Homo sapiens: one gene and its partners. The protein of the gene in region 3 interacts with the protein of the main gene of each other region in a pairwise test. Each region holds a gene or a part of one and is shown on either strand. Other genes may lie near its edges. The genes, in order: EVA1A, SLC16A2, MS4A13, SLC18A1 and TLCD4.

The links.
Region 1: the proteins of MS4A13 (region 3) and EVA1A interact in binary tests that used the Homo sapiens proteins (3 or more experiments, as listed by UniProt).
Region 2: the proteins of MS4A13 (region 3) and SLC16A2 interact in a two-hybrid assay, tested with the Homo sapiens proteins (one large-scale study listed by BioGRID).
Region 4: the proteins of MS4A13 (region 3) and SLC18A1 interact in binary tests that used the Homo sapiens proteins (3 or more experiments, as listed by UniProt).
Region 5: the proteins of MS4A13 (region 3) and TLCD4 interact in binary tests that used the Homo sapiens proteins (3 or more experiments, as listed by UniProt).

The regions. Positions count from the first base shown.
Region 1 is NC_000002.12:75,519,435-75,522,952, reverse strand, and holds part of EVA1A (protein eva-1 homolog A), read left to right. Parts: intron 1-465; 5' UTR 466-588; intron 589-3,518. UniProt on the Homo sapiens protein: Acts as a regulator of programmed cell death, mediating both autophagy and apoptosis.
Region 2 is NC_000023.11:74,424,492-74,428,009, reverse strand, and holds part of SLC16A2 (monocarboxylate transporter 8), read right to left. Parts: intron 1-3,518. UniProt on the Homo sapiens protein: Specific thyroid hormone transmembrane transporter, that mediates both uptake and efflux of thyroid hormones across the cell membrane independently of pH or a Na(+) gradient.
Region 3 is NC_000011.10:60,513,913-60,518,203, forward strand, and holds the start of MS4A13 (membrane-spanning 4-domains subfamily A member 13), read left to right. Parts: upstream 1-1,479; 5' UTR 1,480-1,695; intron 1,696-2,056; 5' UTR 2,057-2,172; intron 2,173-4,159; 5' UTR 4,160-4,171; coding exon 4,172-4,291. UniProt on the Homo sapiens protein: May be involved in signal transduction as a component of a multimeric receptor complex.
Region 4 is NC_000008.11:20,159,124-20,162,641, reverse strand, and holds part of SLC18A1 (chromaffin granule amine transporter), read left to right. Parts: intron 1-3,518.
Region 5 is NC_000001.11:95,148,337-95,151,854, reverse strand, and holds part of TLCD4 (TLC domain-containing protein 4), read right to left. Parts: intron 3,154-3,518; coding exon 3,064-3,153; intron 1,648-3,063; coding exon 1,589-1,647; intron 531-1,588; coding exon 436-530; intron 1-435. Other genes in the region: TLCD4-RWDD3 (TMEM56-RWDD3 protein), read right to left, coding at 436-530, 1,589-1,647, 3,064-3,153.

The DNA of each region.
Region 1 (3,518 bases), on a different chromosome or scaffold from region 3:
TATCAGCATTTCCAGGATTCTAGTTCCTACAGAGCTGTGTGAGACTTCATTTCATGGCCCATCTGGGCATTGCTAGAAGGAAACAGAATTCCCTCCCTTCCTGTTCCAGAGAGGCTGGCCTGCAAACTTCACTGATGAGGGGCCAGATTGGGACATCCCACACTAGCTGTTTTGTGGATTTTGGCTGACAGGAGCAGAGAGGAAGCATGTTTCTTTGATCTTTTACCTCTTGCATCCTTTCTGGTATGACCCTGGGAGACTGGTTTATCTGGCTGTCTAGTTCAAATTCCAGATTACACTCTGTCAATGGGCTTTCTCCTCTCTGGGGATGCTATTCATCCTTCCAAGGATCCAGACACTAGCCACCAAAGCTTCTCTGCTGGGTTCACACACATACCAGGTCTAAGGTATGATGTGATCTCCTGGGTATATGATGGTTTTTGTGCTGCTTCTTTTTTCTTTCAGAGTCTGAGAAGCCAACTGGGGCCAAACAAGTTTTAGAACCTCTACTGGCTGATGCCAACATCATCAGAGATGAACTGTTCTTACCAGAAACTTCTCTGCTCCTGACACCCCACCTCTCCCCAGGTAGCTAAAGGGATAATGAGATTATTACCCCCTGAACACTATGTATGGGGGTGACATACCAGGGGACACTCAGTTCCAATTGCAATATCATAGGCACAATATTAGAAGAATATTTGGACACTTTGATAGCCAAAGAAAGGCATTTGGAAGATTAATAGGGGGCTTCACTGCAATAGGTCTTTCCTTTGCTTAAATCATGAATTTTTTATTAAATTTTACACAAATACATTTTTTCATCTATTCATACGATCTTTTTCCTGTTAATCTATAAATATGGTAGAGTACACTTATTTACAATCCAATTTTTAAAAATAAATGCAATAACATCTCTTACTTAAAATTAAGCCATATCATAATGTGATATGAATTAGAATTTTATTGACTTCAAATTTAATACCGCTAAAAGATAACTCTGCCATCATTCTTATTAACTTAAAACCAAAATTTGATTGCAAGATTCTTTAAATAAAGTAACCTTCAAAATTCCCTGTTTTACCTCACCAACACAATTTTTAAATTGTGGTAAAATACATATAACAAAATTCGTCATCTTAAATTACTTTTAAGTGTATAGTTCAGTGGCATTAAGTATATTTACATTATTGTGCAACCATCACCATCATCCTTCCCCAGAACTCTTTTCATCTTGCAAAACAGAAACTTTGTACCCTGTACCCTGTTCAATAATTATCTTTTCCCTGCTCCTGTTCCTGACAACCGCTACTTTCTGTCTCTATGAATATGACCACTGTTGGTGCTTCATACATGTGGAATCATATAATACCTGTCCTTTTTGACTGGCTTATTTCACTTAGCCTAATGTCCTCAAGTTTAATCCATGCTTATGCCTTCCTTTTTAAGGCTGTGCGTAATATTGCATTGTATGTGTAGACAACATTTTATTTATTCATCCATCTGTGGATGGACATTTGGGTTACTTCCACCTTTTGGCTATTGTGAATAATGCAGCTCTGAACATTGGTGTACAAATTCTGTTCAAGTCTCTGCTTTAAAATCCTTTCAGTATATACCCAGAGGTGGAATGGCTGGGTCATACAATAATTCTATTTAAACATTTTTTAAGGAATAGTCATCCTATTTTCCACAGTGGCTGCACAATTTTACCTTCCCATCAACAGTGCACAAGGGTTCCAATACTTATTTTCTGATTTTTGATAGTAGTCATCCTAACGGGTATGAGATGATATTTCATTGTGGTTTTGATTTTGATTTCATTAATGCTTGGTTATGTGGAGCATCTTTTCATGTGCCTATTGACTACTTGTATATCTTTGGAGAAATATTGCTTCAAGTCTGTTGCCCATTTTTAAATTGAGCTCTTTGTTTTTAGTTGTTGAGTTGTAGGAGTTCTGATATTAGGAATTAGGATAGGTAGCAGTCTGGATATTAACCCTTTATCAGATATATTATTTGCAAATATTTTCTCCCATTTTGTGGGTTGCCTTTTTACTCTGTTGTGCCCTGTGATGCACAGAAGTTTTTAATTTTCATAGAGTCCTTTTCTTTTTTTTTACTTTTGTTGCCTGTGCTTTTGGTGTCATATCCAAGAAATCATTGTCAAATCCAATGTCATGAATCTTTACCCCTGTTTTCTTCTAACAGTCTTCTAAAATTTTTAGCTGTTACATTTAGGTCTTTGACACATTTTGAGTTAATTTTTTATATAGTGTAAGGTAAGGGTCCAACTTCATCCTTTTGCACGTGGACATCCAGTTTTTCCAACACCGTTTGCTGAAAAGGCAGTCTTTTCCCATTGAATGGTCTTGGCACCCTTGCAAAAATAATTTGAACATATATATATGTAAGGGTTTATTTTTGGATGTTCTATTCTATTCCATTAAGCTACATGTCTGTTTTTATATGCTAGGCCTACACTGTTTTGATTACTATAGATTTATAATAAGTTTTGAAATCAGGAAGAGTGAGATGTCTAACTTTGTTAATTTTCAAGATTGTTTTGACTGTTTGGGGTCCCCTGAGATTCCATATGAATTTCAGTATGGATTTTTTTATTTCTGCAAAAACATCATTGAGATTTTGGGACTGCCATAAAACTTCTGAATTCTTTCTTATAGGAAACATTTGCCAGACAGATGAAGAGAAGGGGGGCATTTAGGCAACAGGAAGAGTGTGACCAAAAGCATGAAGAGGTGAAAGAGCTTGCTCTACTTGGGGGAACTAAAAGTAATCTAGTATTGTTGAAGCTCTAAGCATTCTTATTATCTGTGTGTATATGTGTGTGACTGTCAGCTTGGATAGGAGATACATTAGGAGGTAAGGCAGAGGTCAGATATTGTGAAAGTGGATGTGTATTGTGTTAAGAGGTCAATGGAAATTCATTAGAGTTGGGTTGTGGAGTGATGTGATCATATTTGTACTATAGAAAAATGACCCTGTTAATAAGAATGGGTGCTATATTGAGAAGGAAGGAGGTATCATCAGAAAGACCAGGTAGGAGATTGTTGCAAAACTCCCAGAAATAAAATGATAAGACTTGCAATCTGGTAACATTAGTGGAGACAGGAAGGAGGGAATGGTTTTGAAATACACATGGCTCACTACAAACTCAGACATATTCCAGTAGCTTCACTCTTTTCCTGGGTCTTGAAGTCCTCAGATCTGTAGAACAGCCTCTGAACTCAGTTTGATGGCTCTCACCATTCACGTGTATCATCCAGTTGCCACCTTTTAGGAACACAAATGACTGTTGAAAGAGGCGCTGTGTTCTGGCTCAGCGGCTCAAGGGTCCCTTAACAGCAGCCAGTCTCTTTTCAAAGTCCCTGGAGCTCCCACTCCTTCTCCTGTCACTCTCAGAGCCTCTGGCCGCTCCAAGGACTTTATGGTTGTTTCTTTGTGCCTGTGAGTTGGTTGGTGTTTTCTTGTTTTGGTCTTTCCTGAAGCCTGCTGAA
Region 2 (3,518 bases), on a different chromosome or scaffold from region 3:
ACTCTTTTCATCACTCTCGCCTAGCAAGCTTCTTAGTCTGGTTCCTTTGCACTAGTACAGCATAATCTTTACAGAAGCCTCTGGTACACCTAATTCCATGAACAGATGGGAAATGACTTATTTCAGATGGAATATTCATAATCTATGGCTTAGGGTGTAGGGTATGGGTGTGTGTGTGTGTGTGTGTGTGTGTGTGTGCGCGCGCGTGCACGCGTGCGCATGCGCTTGCGCACATGTGTATATGTGTAGAACAAAGCCTTTTCTCTAGGGTTCATTCATTCAATCTCAAGTGAGACAACACCTTTCAAGACAGGAAATCCCACTCCGTCATTCACACAATCTGAAAAGAGTAGTTTTCATCTTTTCAAAATGCAACAAAACCATAAAATGAGGCTGGTGGGAAAAGCAGTGCATCTTCCTGGGAAACTGGTCTGCTCAAAAGGTTGATATGGCATCCTTTATATACTTCTACAAATGTTGACAGTCCAGCTGCTTGTTTACTCTTCATGGGCTGGAGGCAATACGGCCAATGACTTCCAAGGAAAAGGAAAGAGAGCTCTGTGCCTGCTACTTCCGTAGGCACACTCTCAGCTAAGCCCTGACGCTGCAGTTGACCAGGGATTGTGGGCATCTAATGGGCCTTCTCCAGGATCACAGTAGCAACCCTCCCCAACCCCACCACAGCAGGATCCAGGCAGTGGCCCTGAGCCAGCTATCAAAACGCCCTGTTTGAAGACCTCTGAAGGGAACCTCATTTAGGAATCCGTTTCCTCTGCTAGCTGGAAGTAACAGCAAACCAAGGTCACACTGACTATGCATTTCTGAGAAATAAGACTGTGCTGTGGGAAATTCAGTTTCAGAAGAGGGGTCCAAACTGAGGCTTGAGGAAATGTTTATAATTTAATACTTTTGAGGAACAGGTTCAAACGCTGGAAAACAGCAGCATACAGACCCACCCTGCTTGCCTGCCAAATCCAGGGAGTTCTCTTGGAGACCCAGCTCTATACCAATCAGGACACTCTGGAAGAAGCAGCTCCACATGCAGGGTTGCCCTTACATACTAGGTAAAAAGGATTGGGTAATTTTTAAACACATCTATACCCATGGGCAGCCCCATAGTCTTTAAATACAAATGACGTGGGGAAATGATGTATATAGGGCTTTTCCTTGCTTTCCCAATCTTCTCCCAATCCATCCTCACTGTCATTCAGGCAGCTTAACGAACTTTTATTTACTTAAATGAGTCAAAATGTATGACATATGAATAGTAAAGAATAAGATATCACATAATTTTAGAAGGATAGAATGGTAGGGCTAGAAAGTTTATTTAGTCAAACCCTCTCATTTTATAGATAGATAAACTGACATACAGAGAGGTGAAGTGCCTGTCCAAAGTCACAGAATAAGTTAGGGGCACAAGTTGTCTAAGTCACAGTTACTGCCTAGCTGGTATCACTGAGACTGCCAGCTTTGGGGAGTCCAGATTTGGCCCTGGGTCTTGCTTTTTTAGACTTAGAATGAGCATTTGAGGCCACTGTACAGTGATCCAGGCATCCAGCCTCAACCAGCTACCCCAACTCAAACAAGCATCCTCCTGGTTGGCCTCCAAATGACCCAATCTCTTATTCTCATCCCTTTCAGTATCAGTCATGGTCATAGTTCAAGATCCCATTTGGTTGGAAAGGGGGCAGGGGAATGACGTGAGAGATGCCTGGCCAAGGGCTGTGTGGCTTGAAGCACCACAGCAGGCGCTAAGCCAACCTGATCTAGCTCTGCTGGACAGTAGTCAAGAGCCTTCAGCTGAAGTCAAGAGATTGGCAGATTTGCTCAAAATACACTTTGCTCCCAAAGTCAGCAATTTAGTGTTACAGTCCAGTGAGACACTGAACCAAGCAATGAAAACCCCTAAGGTGAGAAGGAGAAAGACAGCCTACTCTACCTGGCCCCACCCAACCTTGGGACTCTTGGTTCACCCAAAGGCAGAGTGTATCATTCTTCCCCATGCCTAGAAAATTCTGTTTCCATCAGAGTGGACCATCAGCCTGAACTATCTTGTGCCTAGTAGTGAACCTTCCTGACCATTGTCCCTTTCTCTGGTGATGAGAGCCTCAGCCTTGACCCCCCTTGGGAGCTTACAAGGACCATGCTTATAAACTGCCCAGTAAAACAAAAATGCCTTCCATATTTTTTGGCTCAATGGTGGACCGGCAGTCAAGTTTTACTCTGGAGTACTTTTAAAAAGACTTAAGCATAGAGCCAATGTTAGCAACTCTGGCTTGTTCTGCCTTGTCCTCTGAACTCCCAACCCTAACCCTATTGCAGGTCCAACTCACTTAGGGTCCCAATATTGAGCTGGGGCCTACAATCAATGGCGTCTTGCTTCTCTTTCCCCTCTTTCCTCCAAAAGGCTTCCCTACCACCCCAAGAAGCTATGCTTGGGCCTTTACTTTCCACAGAATTGCCTGGTTGCCTCCTGTCCTGTCTGCTGTTTGGTCTGGGTTGGGGAACTCACAAATTTCCCATGATCTTGGCAAGAAATACAGGCTCATTTCCCTCCTGATCTTTTTCCTTTTTTCACTAAACCAGAGTTTGATCACTTGCCTCCCTCTCAGGGACCTTTTGCCTGCCAATCCACCCAAGCCTAGGACCCAGGGAAAGTTGGCTTTCCTCCAAAACTGGTGAAGAGAGGGGATAAGATATACAGCTGGTGACACCACAAAACTGTATACATCAAAGGGTCCACAAAAACTGCACATTGCATGCTCTAGTAAGGCCTGAATCCCATATCCCTTCTAACTTCTGTGGCTTTTTCCCATGCCCAGAGGCACTCTGATGTGGAGCTGTTCCTCAAACATCAAAACTACCTTTCTTCCCAGCTACTTGGGAGGCTGAGGCAGTAGGACTGCTGGAGGCCAGGAGTTTGAGACCAGCCTGGGCAACATAGCAAGAGTCTGTTTTTAAATAAATAAATAAATAAATAAAAATTAGCCAGGTGTGGTGGCGCATGCCTGTAGTTCTAGCTACTTGAGAAGCTGAGGTGGGACGATTGCTTGTGCCCAGGAGTTTGAAGGTGTCGTGAAATATGACTGCGCCACTGCACTCCAACCTGGTCAACAGAGCAAGATCCCATCTCTAAAAATAAAGTATAAGAAACTACCTTTCTGTGGGGCTTCCTCACAACAATCCCAATCATCTGCAGGACCTTCCACCCATTAAGCCACTCAACACAGCTTTAGGTCTGTGAAGATATTAGGCCTAGTCAAAGAGAAATTGGGTTACGAGGTGCCTCCAAACACCAAATTCATAGACTCTTAGAGATGGAAGTCATGTCAGATATTAATAAAAATGGACGATGCACCAAATTCCTTGAGCGTGGGGGTGTACATTCTGTTTCTCCCAGAATGGCTATTGGACAAATACTGGCTGATAAAAATGACACAAACTTCTATTAGCTTCTTCTATCCCTTTGAGACACCAGTGCTGTGGCACAGACGGCTGGGAAATTTTGAGTAAACAGC
Region 3 (4,291 bases):
AGTTTATAGGTACTGAGAAAATCAATGTTGCTTTTACTGATCTGTGATATTAGCAGAAGAAATAAGATGTACCAAGGAACCATGCCTGTCTCATAGTTTGGCTCACTCTTCTATTTTTGCCTATGTTTATACTGAAAACACATTTTGGCCCCAGTCCAAAAAAATGACCAAATCCATGATAATTTCCAGAGACTGTTGGCCAAAGCTTAAATGAAGAAATATGTCACTTCTCTCACAAATAATCAATCAGTCTTGGCAGCAAGTTACAATAGCGGTCCATCTCATCAGAACTGGCTCTTACTACTATGGATTCTAAAAAATCCATAACCCTGAGGTTGAAGACACAGTTCCTCTTTCTACAGCAAAGAGAATGCTTAATATTATCGGAGCCCTGTCTGCTCATAGACAAGGAACTCACAAAATAATAATAATGCTAGAAACTGAAGTGGTATATTACTTAAGAATAAAACTATTACCTTCAATGACATACTGACCAATACAGAATGTAAAGACTTTAGAAGAGGCTGGGCTTTTTTTTTTTGTTTTTTTTTCCTTTGATTTGAGGGGACTTTGGAGTCTCAATGTAAGGAAGCTAGCTGTGAGACTAAAAATTAAGATTCTCAATTTACAGTTGATTTTTCAGGCTATAAAAGATCTTGATGGCTTTTAGACACACTCATGATTTAGCTTTTTGCAAATAAAGGTGTTGAAAGCATAGAAAATTTCCTTATGAAAGAAAAATCTGTCTTGTTTTCTGCGTGTTTTACTCACTGGCTATCATTGACTAAAAATTTACACTACAAGCTGGAATTTTAACTATTCCACAATGTCAATTTAAATTTTCCATGAATAAATGAGAAATGCCATTGAGTGGCTGTTCTCCAGGTACTTTAAACGCCTCAGTAAGTCATGATAGCTGCCTAAGAGGATGGTCTGTACTGCTCATCTAAAGCACCTCTTCATAAACACTGTTTTAACTACTGTCTACACCTCAAACAGAAAACTAACACCACGTGTCACCTAAAAGGTAAACCCGCCTCAGCAAGTGGATCAAAAAGTCATTCTGGTGTCTTGTTAAGTATTACTTTCATCACTAATTTCCTTCTTCAGTTACTTATGTTTAAAGAAAAAAAAAGTGAGCCATTGATTTAGCCACTTCACTCGAAAGTGCACCTTCCAAAGGTGCTCTTGTGGTCAAAATTTTTCTTTGAAGACAGAAAAGGTGAAGGGCGGACTTCTCCTCAGTGATCCTGGTCACTGTGCAGCAGGTGGGTGTATAAGAAATGCACCAATATGGGCAATCTCAGAATAGAGGTTTGCAGAAACCGTTCCTAGAGGCACCAAAACGTAGTTAACCGGGTGTCTGACCACATGGCTGCCAGGAGCCTAGTGAGTCTGCGCACACGCACTACCTCCGCCCCGGCAGTTCCTGAGTGGGTGCGCAGGCGCAAGAGGAGCACACCGTTGCCATTGCAGACCGTCACTCCCTGAGGAGCCTGAGAGCCGGCCGGGTGCTGGGCTCCTGGCTATCCCTGTGATGGTAGCTCAGCGAGATCTGGGGACCTGGCGCTGAGCGCGTTGCCAGCCGGGATCTTCCTCTTCATCTAGGCCTGGGCGCTGGCGTGAGAACTCGGACTGGGTCCTGGACGAGCGCCCCCCGAAACTCCTTGGAACCTTGAACAAGTAAAATGCAGGGTAGTGATGTCGCTTTGCTGGAGTGCTTTCGTGTCAGAAGCCATAAAGGGACACGGAGGCTGATTACGGTGTTCCTCTCCCTATCATACTCTGTAAACAGTAGGCACTATTTACTACTCAGAGATGATAGCTGTAAAATGCCGATATGTTTTAGTCATAGAGAGAGACTTTTCAGTTATGAAGGCTGTTATTCAGAACAGATGGATGAAAGTTGATGCCTCTAATATTAAGGCCTAGAAAGAAGAAAGAAGGCTATTGCTTCTGAATTTGGAGAGGTGGTGACTGAACAATAAGGAAAGGATCAAACTTACGTATTTTCTTCTAAGAAAATAATGTATATGTGCTTTGTACTGTTTTGTAGAAGTTTGCTAATAAAGACATCACCAAAGGTTAAAGAGAAAATCATCTAGAGGAAATGCTGGCAGTATGGCATGTGTTCTTTAACAAATCTCTACAGCAGATTCTCTCGTTTTAGGGGTAAGATTTCACTTTGACTAACTAAATTTAAGATCATGAACTATTTCATTTTTTTAACGGATATATTGGATCTAAAGGGGGACAGACTTGGTTAAATCAAAAGGGTAAAAGTTTTTTTTTTTTCAAATGTTGATTGTCTTCTACAAATTTTGACTGATCTCATGTTCCTTCATGTGCTGAGATATGGGGATACAGACTAAACCAACACACACAGGATAATAGAGAAATCCAAGTAAGGTTTAAAAGGAAAAAAGAGAGTACTGCACTTACATTTATGCAGTAGGATGATTATAAATTTGTCTCTTCTATTAAGTTATAAACATGTGAAGTTACAGTTTAGCTTTCTTAATGAACACCAAGGAATTATGAGTATCATGCTTTTTCACATCCAAAGGGGAGAAAACATTTCCACTCGTGAACTTTTCTTCTGAATTTGAATGTTGCATAGATCAATTATCTAAGTCGCCTATACGACTGTTCAGCAGAGGTTCTTAACCTCTTTGGGGTCACAGACCATTTTGGCATAGAATGAAAACTCTGAATCTTCTTTCCAGAATTATGTACATGTCACAATCCTTCGCATTTTTTTTCCCTGGGGGCAGGGGGTAGGCGGGTCTGACCTCCTGGAACTCATATTGATTCTAGATTAAGAATCATTTTTAAATAAGAAAACCTATCTTGTCCTTCTCCACACACTGGCAGTTCTTAACAAGCATTGGCTAATTAGCTATCTCATGGTTTTATATAAAACAATAGTCAATCATTTAAAAAGAGATAGTACTTTTCAAGCTCACTTACTTTTTTAACAGTTGGGAAAGTCACATGGAATCACTATTCTTGACACCAGTATGCTTATATAAGAGGTATTTGCTGGATGCCTTCTCTATTCTGGGCACCATATTAGAGGCTGGTGATAAAACAATAAAAAAAAAAAAACTCCAGGCCCTAAGGGATTTTGCAGTCTAGTGGGAGATATTTCTCCAGGCAAATCCAAAGAATTTCTGGAAAATTACCATTCTTGCAAATTTGATGCAAGGGGAAACGTTAAATTCTAAATCTATAAAAATGCATGATCGTTACCAAAAAAGAGACTTTTTCTTAAAAAAAAAACAAAACTTCTCCAAAATGTATTTTTTAAAGTTAGCCAATTGCACTTATATATTTCATAGACTGCCTGCTTTGCAAAGAGCTGGAACTCTTAAAACATTAAATAGCTTTCTGTTTAAGTTTATATGAAAATAAAATTTATGTGTCCTCTGTCATTTTTAAAGAGTAATCAAAAATGTGATTAAATATATGAAATATCAGTTCACATATAAATTCAGAAATAAATTTGCTGGGATTATAATTATCTTCTTACAAATTAGAGTTGAGTAATAATTCTCCCCTATTCAAAATCCTTCCCCTTTCCAATGGGAAAACCGAGTTCAAGCGAGTCCATTTTGGATATTTTCTGTATTGCTGTGTTGGATTATGCCCCACTCCAGCATACTTGTGAAAAAAATCATACCAAATACTCCTTGAAGGAAAAGATAAATCAAACCTTTATAAAATTCAAAAAGTGATTCATCTTTAATAAATTACTAATGTACAAGAAAATGTTGGATTTATGGCTTCCTGCATTATAGTAGATTAGTAACCACATTTTCTCTGAAGTAACCCCAATATTCTCTCATACCATTACTTGATAGGTAGGGAGACTATCCAGTGATAGAATCAAACTGTTAACTTACAGGAGAATTGGCCAGAGCTACTATTATTGAACAGCCTGTTGCTTTCAGTATGACTGATTCCTATTTGGTAAATCTCAGTCCTTCCTGATCGGTCCTTTTTTCTGGGATAACCAATCCAGGAAATACATCATTAAGTGCATTGCTGTTTTACTTTTGTATTTGTAAAGGTGTTAAATGCTTCTTATAGTTAACACTTATTGGAATTGTGTTTTAAATTACATTATTTCGGTACTAACATAATTCTCTTCTCACAGACTATCCAGATTATGATTGGCATCTTTCACATTTTCATGTGGTACTTTCTATTGGTTTTGTATATGGGACAAATTAAAGGAGCCTTTGGAACGTATGAACCTGTAACTTACAAAACAGGATGTACTTTATGG
Region 4 (3,518 bases), on a different chromosome or scaffold from region 3:
ACAAAAAACTTGGCAGACTTGTATCCATAACCTAGGACTTCATGGAATGAAGAACTTAGAGGCAATAAACTAGGATATCTGGCAGAAGAAATATCTAAGCAGCAAAGCTTCAGGCTGCTTTGTGGCTGTTTTAACTGCATATATAGTGACATGTGAAAGCAAAGAAATGATTTAAAGGTGAAATTTATGGTTAAAAGAGAAACAAAACAGAAAGACTTGGAAAATTTGCTGCCTGGCCTTGGAAAGAAAGAAAAGGCATCTTTAGGAGAGCACACCAAGACTGTGGCCAAGCAACCTAAAGTGATTAGTGTGGATAAAAGTGAGCCAGGCACCACTTATTAAGACTGTGGGAGAAAGACCCAAAGGCATTTTAGAGACCTTCGAAGCTGTGCTTCCCATTACTGGCCCAGAGATGTAGGAGGGCAGAATGGTTTGGGAATAAGCCTGGGACACCCTCCATGGGCTCACTGCCCAGGACCACCTTGGGACTCTGCTCTCTGCGTTTCAGTGCAGTGCCCCTCAACTGTGCCAGCCATGGCTCAAGTGGGCCCAGATGTGGCCTGGCCTCCCACTCTGGAGGGTGCAAGTGGTAAGCCTTGGTGGTGTCTATGTGGTGCAAATTTTGCACGTGCGCAGAATGCAAGAGCTATGGGTGCATGACTTCTTCCACCTAAATTTCAAAAGATGCCATGCACAGCCACTTCCAAGATCACGGAACTGTAGGGGCACCAGCATGGTGGCCTGCAAGCACAAGACTCCAACCCATGATTGCTGCTGGGTAGACTCAGCCCGGAAAGACCACAGACATGGGGCTGCCTGATGCCTTAGGGGTCCAAACTCCACTCCAGTGTGCCCAGGATTTTGGACATGGAGTCAAAGGCAATTATTCTCCAGCTTTAAGACATAATATTGTTTTCTGTTTTGGGCTTTGGACTTTCGTGGGACCTGTTACCCCTTTCTTCTTCCCTGTTGCTTCCTTTTGAAATAAGAATGCCTGTTCTATCTTTGTTCCACCATTATTTTTGAAAGTAGGTAAATTATCCCTTGGTGTGCATAGGAGAGTGGTTCTAGGACTCCTCACGGATACCAAACTCAAAGGATGTTCAAGTCCCTTACATAGAATGGCATCGTATTTGCATATAATCTACACACGTACTTCCATGTACTATAATCATTTCTCAATGACTTGTAACACCTAATGCAATGGAAATGCTATATAAATAGTTGTTATACTGTATTATTTTCTTTTTTGTATTATTTTTATCTTGTACTGTTATTTTTATTTTTTTTCCTCATATATTTTTGATCTGCGATTAGTTGAATCCAAGGATGTGAAACCTGCAAATACAAAGGGCCAAGTATAATTTGTTTTGATTTCACACGCTCACAGCTGGAGGGAATTTGCCTCAGGATTAATCGTACCTTGAATCTCACCCATAACTAATTTAGACAAGACTCTGGATTTTGGACTTTTGAGTTTACACTGGAACCACTTAAGACTTCTGAAACTATTGGGATGGATTGAATGCATTTTGCATTGTGACAAGGACATGAATTTTGGAGGCCGGGGGTAGAATGCTATGTCCTCCAAAATTTGTGTGTTGGAAACTTAATCCCCAATGCAACAGTGTTGAGAAGTGGAACCTTTAGTAGGTGATAAAGTCCTAGGGGCACCACCTTTATGAATAGATTAAAGCAATTATCATAGGAGTGGGTTAGTCACAAAAGGGGGGAGTTTGGCCCCTTTTTCTTTTCTCTCTCAAATGCCCTTTCTCCATGTGATACCCTTCGGCTGTATTATGACCCAACAAGAAGTCCCTCACCAGATGGCCAAGCAGATGCTGGTGCCATGCACTTGCGATTCCCAGCTTCCAGCATTGTGATCCAAATACATCTTTTTTCTTTAAGAATTACCCAATCTGTGGTAATATGTTACAGCAGCAAAAATAAAACAGACTAAGACCAACTTCAGTTTTTTAATTTGTAAAAAAGTAGGTATTTTTCAGAGTCATTTTCATCTGGAATCCTAAATGGATTAGCCCAGTGCGTGGAATACAGGATACTATCAGTAAATAAAAAATTATTTGTACAATTTTACTTTAAACCATTTTGATAGTCACAAAATGTGTAATCCCTCACCCCTTAGAGATTCACTGTGAAAAACAGATGTTTTTCATGCAGGGGTCATGTATCTATAAATACATATTCTGGAGCACCTATTTTGCACAAAATACTGCTAAAATGTAAGCTATAATCAGGTCCTAAAGAACGAGCAACGTGGATTGAGAAAAATCTAATTAAGGAAATTTTACACCATTTAAAATGATGTCAAGGAGGTGTATCTAGGAGGCTGTAGGCTTCCTAGAGGTGCTTACTTCCACATACTAGATAAACAATTGAGTAGTTTTAATTTTTTTAAGCAATTAAATATAAACGAATGGGTACAGTTTGCAACAGATTGCCACCTGTCCAGGATAGCCTACACAAATACACTAAGGTGTGCTTACTTCTACTCCATAGAAGAGAATATTAAAAGCAAACAAGTTGTCAGCCAATAAATGGTTGATTGTTGACTTTTAATTTAATTGTAATTGCCATGGTATTTTTTGTTAGCCTGCACTGTTTTTTTCTAGGTATAGAGAGGGATTAAAAGGGCTGGTGAGATCCAGACAAACTCACTCTGCTGATCTCAAACAGTTCCTTATACCAGAGCCATCTGTGCTACCACGCTGGGGGTGTGGCATAGTGGAAACACTTGGAGTTAGAGTGAGATGGCCTGGACTCAAGTCCTGACATGCCACTCACGAGTTATGATGATAATAATCAAGACCAGTGCTTGTAGGGCCCTTACTCTGCGACAGGCACGATGCAAAATGTTTGATATGCACTATTTTGTTTAAACCTCACAACTGGCCTGTCTGGTAGAAATTATGATTATCCCCATATTTCAGAGATTTCTTTTCTTTTCTTTTTCTTTCTTTTTTTTTTTTTTTTTTTTTTTTTTTTTGGCAGCTGCAAGATTTAATAGAGTGAAAACAGAGCTACCATATAATGGGAGGCGGCCCAAAGGGAATTGCCACTGCTGGCTGGAATGCCTGGGGTTTATATCCCGATCATTGTCCCTCCCTCTGTGCTCTCAGGTGATAGATTATTTGATTATTTCTTTACCTCCTGCTTTTAGCCTAATTGGTATTTTAGTGAGCTCTCTTTACTATGTGATTGGTCAGGTGTGAGCTGAGTTACTAGCCCCTTGTTTAAAGGTGGGTGTGGTCACCTTCCCCAGCTAGGCTTAGGAATTCTTAATTGGCCTAGGAAATCCAGCTAGTCCTGTCTGTTAGTACCCCCTCTCAACAGGAAAACCCAAGTGCTGTTGGGGAGGTTGGCTGATGACCGCTCTAACTGCTTCCTGCCGAACTGGGGCATAGTAGGGGTCATGCAGTTGAAAGTTCCTTGAGAGGGGTGCTTTCGATGTCATCAACATTGGAGCATGGGCTAGCAGGCCAGTCCAGGGGTCTGTA
Region 5 (3,518 bases), on a different chromosome or scaffold from region 3:
AGCAAGATTTCTCCACTGCTCCAACCTACTTAAATGTAATTATGTATATGTAATTGCACATGGAATTAAACAGAAAAGAAATATTTTCGCTGGCTCATACTCTTTGCTGTTAAATCATAAATGCATCTAGAAATACAGACAAATATCTATAGCTACAACAATCCTGAAGGTTTTAAATGGAAATTCAAAGAATTAGGGTCATTTGTCTGTCTCAAAATCTATGAATACAAACAGACACACCAACACCAACACAGACACACATAAAGGTATTATTTTAGTTAATACAGAAGATAGCATACCACAAAAGCAATCCCTGAATGCATCTGGAGATGGTCTTTAAAAACTAAGAATTGTATGTTTAGATTTATGTTCACCTTTACATCACTATTCCCAATCTTGTCTGCTAGTTAGGCTACAGAAAATCCTGGAACTCACCAGTACAAGGTAGTATGCATACAGGGACGCACAATGATGCATTATAAAAAATTTGTCACCAATCACTTTCCAATACAAAATTATAATGGACAAATCTGTAAGAAAGAAAAGTGAGTAAGGTATTACATAAGAAGAAAGTTGCACTGTTTTTCAAATGTATTGAACTCTTTCTCCTGCCAACTCATCACTGTCCACTCTGAGCCCACAGCACTTTGTTCATCCCTCAGTTAGTCTGATTATCTACTTTACCATAAAATCTCTGCTCCTATATGCCTGTCTCATCCACACTCCTGTGGCTCCTCTAAGACAAGGGCCAGGTTGTGAGCATCTTTAAACCCTCAGAATCTAGCACAAGGCCTGGCATGTAGGTTGGTGCAAAAGTAACTGTGATTTTTGCCATTATTTTTAATCACAAAAACTGCAATTACTTTTGTACCAACCTAATCATATGTAATATAATATTTGTTGAAAGCATAAATGAATAACTTGTTTCCAGAGTTAAAATAAACAAAAAATATTATTGAATAGAAATAATTTTAAATAAGCTTAAGTGACTGATTTTTGTCACTACAATAATTCAAACAGAGATAAGATGGTCATAGGGAAGGTACAAAATGACCAACTCATTTATAAAACAAATCGTACAAAAAATATTTTAAAAATAAAAAAGAATGCAATTAAATACTAATTCAAAATAGTGACGCCACCAAAAACTATAACTATTAAAAAGAAAAACAAAGAAAAAAGCTTACTTCTGCAAATTTTACAAAAACAACACAAAACCATGACTACTGGAACACATTTCAAGAACTCTTGCAAGTGAGGGACCCTAAAAGTTAAATTTCGTTAGTTTCACAGTCATTACACTTAAGAGCCTCATTAGGACAAAGAGGGACCATATCCTTGCTGATAAAAAATGTCCAGGCCTCAGTTGTTTGAGGCATCACTCTGTAACTCTGATCTTCAGTGAGAAACAGAAAACCATTTCATGAAAAGACATTTCATGTTCTACCATCATGGGAGGTATTTTTTTCCTCTGTATGCTTCCTAAATGCTATCTCTCAAATAAACCAAAAGCATAGACTATATATTCTTTGTATAATTCCGTGAGTAGTTTACAAGGAATTAGACAATAAAACAACATCTCACATACCAGAAATGAGGTAGCCTGAGGCAATAGCAATATTCACGTTTGCAAGTGATGGACCACCCCTGAAAAAAAAAAAAGGTTCCTTTTTAAAGTATATAGATTGTAGATGACCGCTACTTCTTTTTTCTATAGAGATTTAAATATAATAAAATTGCTTTCTATAGATTCTCAAATGGTAAGCTGTCATCTTCAAATAAAATTGCAAAACACACAATGACAGTTTAGCCAAACTGTGACGCATCATGTGGTACTGGTGTTAGCAGTAAGGTAACTACTGCTGTTATCTTACATAGTAAGATAGTTACAAAGTGAACTACTAGTGAAAGTAACACTAACTAAAATAGCTGGACTACAAATATTTAATAGAAAGATTTAGCACAAGTTGTGCCTTCTTTACAAATTTTGATCTGTAAATATAACCAGGAAAATTTGACCTGGAGTAAATCATGACATAAAATTCAAATCAAAAATTATGTTAAAGTTCGATAAGGCAAAACTTGAACAATGAATCAAATCTTTGTTATGAAATTTACTTCCCAAAAGAACTGGTTTTATTTTGCTGATGGTCACGTTAGTAAAATGAAAACGAAAATTTTTAAAAAGCTAGAAATTTTGTAGGTAGACTATTTAAAAACCTAGTCATGGAATTAAATTCAATAAATTAATTCTCTTTGAAAAACAGCATCCCAATGAAAATGTATCAATACTGATATTATTCTTCTGGGAATAATTTTATATTTATGAATAGAAAAACGTCCTTGCAGTCAAATGGTGGTGGTCAAAAGAAAAGGCTAAATTGCCCTACATCCCCCGGAGCCCACAACTACCTCATCTCAGTGCAGTGCTTCTTCAAACATGCCTGCTCTCTCAAACTAAGCTGAACTAAGCCTTCTCATATAACACCAGGAAACAGTTTGCAAAATTTCTGCCATTGGAATGACATTTAAATTTTTCTAAAAGGACCATCTTACATGTTATCCTATTACTACTGAACACAGTTATTATTAGTGCATTAGTGCTTCAAATCCTGTGGTACTAAATTCCTATCACATGGCCATCTGTAACTCTCATTTCATCTCTTTGATATCAAATGAGTCAAACATAAATTGGAGACAAAAAAGTCTTAAGTAGATATTATCCAAGTTGACTACCCTATCTCAATAATGATTTATTTTTCTTCAGAACTGTGACTACAATAACTTGGCTTTACTCATTAACACAGTAAAAATGTTTAAATTATCATCATATTCTCCTTGTTTTGGATAACAATTGCTACACTAAGGCAAAATGGCCTTCATTTGTGTTCAAATCTAAAATAAATCATTTAAATGCACTTTGCTAGAATGTCTGAGCACAAGCATTTTAATAAGGCATATACGATCAATATGTTTTCTGTTTTAAAGTAAGTGATGTTCTTATAAATAATTAATATCAAAACATAAATGAAATTGGCAATCTTAGAAAAAGAAACAGCTTACCAAAGTGGATCAGCTTTAGTAGCCTCATCGAATAAGAAAATGTACAGGCCAAAAATACCAACCACCAAAGAATGGCATGTGGATACTACCCTGAAATTAAACAAAATACACACAAAGATTTTAGATTCTTTGCAATAAAATTTAATCCTGACAAGACACAGAACATTCTGAACAAGTTATACCTGGAAGCATTTATATACAGGTGTGAAGTATAACGGAGAGTATAATGCAAAATTGCCATTTCTTGCCATTTAGAAATCCAAAGGCCACAGCTTTACTTTGGAATAAAGAAGGAGGAAGATACCAAGGCCTACAATTTCCTGCTAGAGAACTGGTGAATCACTTATTGGTTAAAAGTTCTAAGACAGATAAATGCATACATGATGATGCAGCTGACAGACTTTTGTGCAGCCAGATGGCAACTGGCAAGGCCACTACCCTTGGCTCCAAGCTCC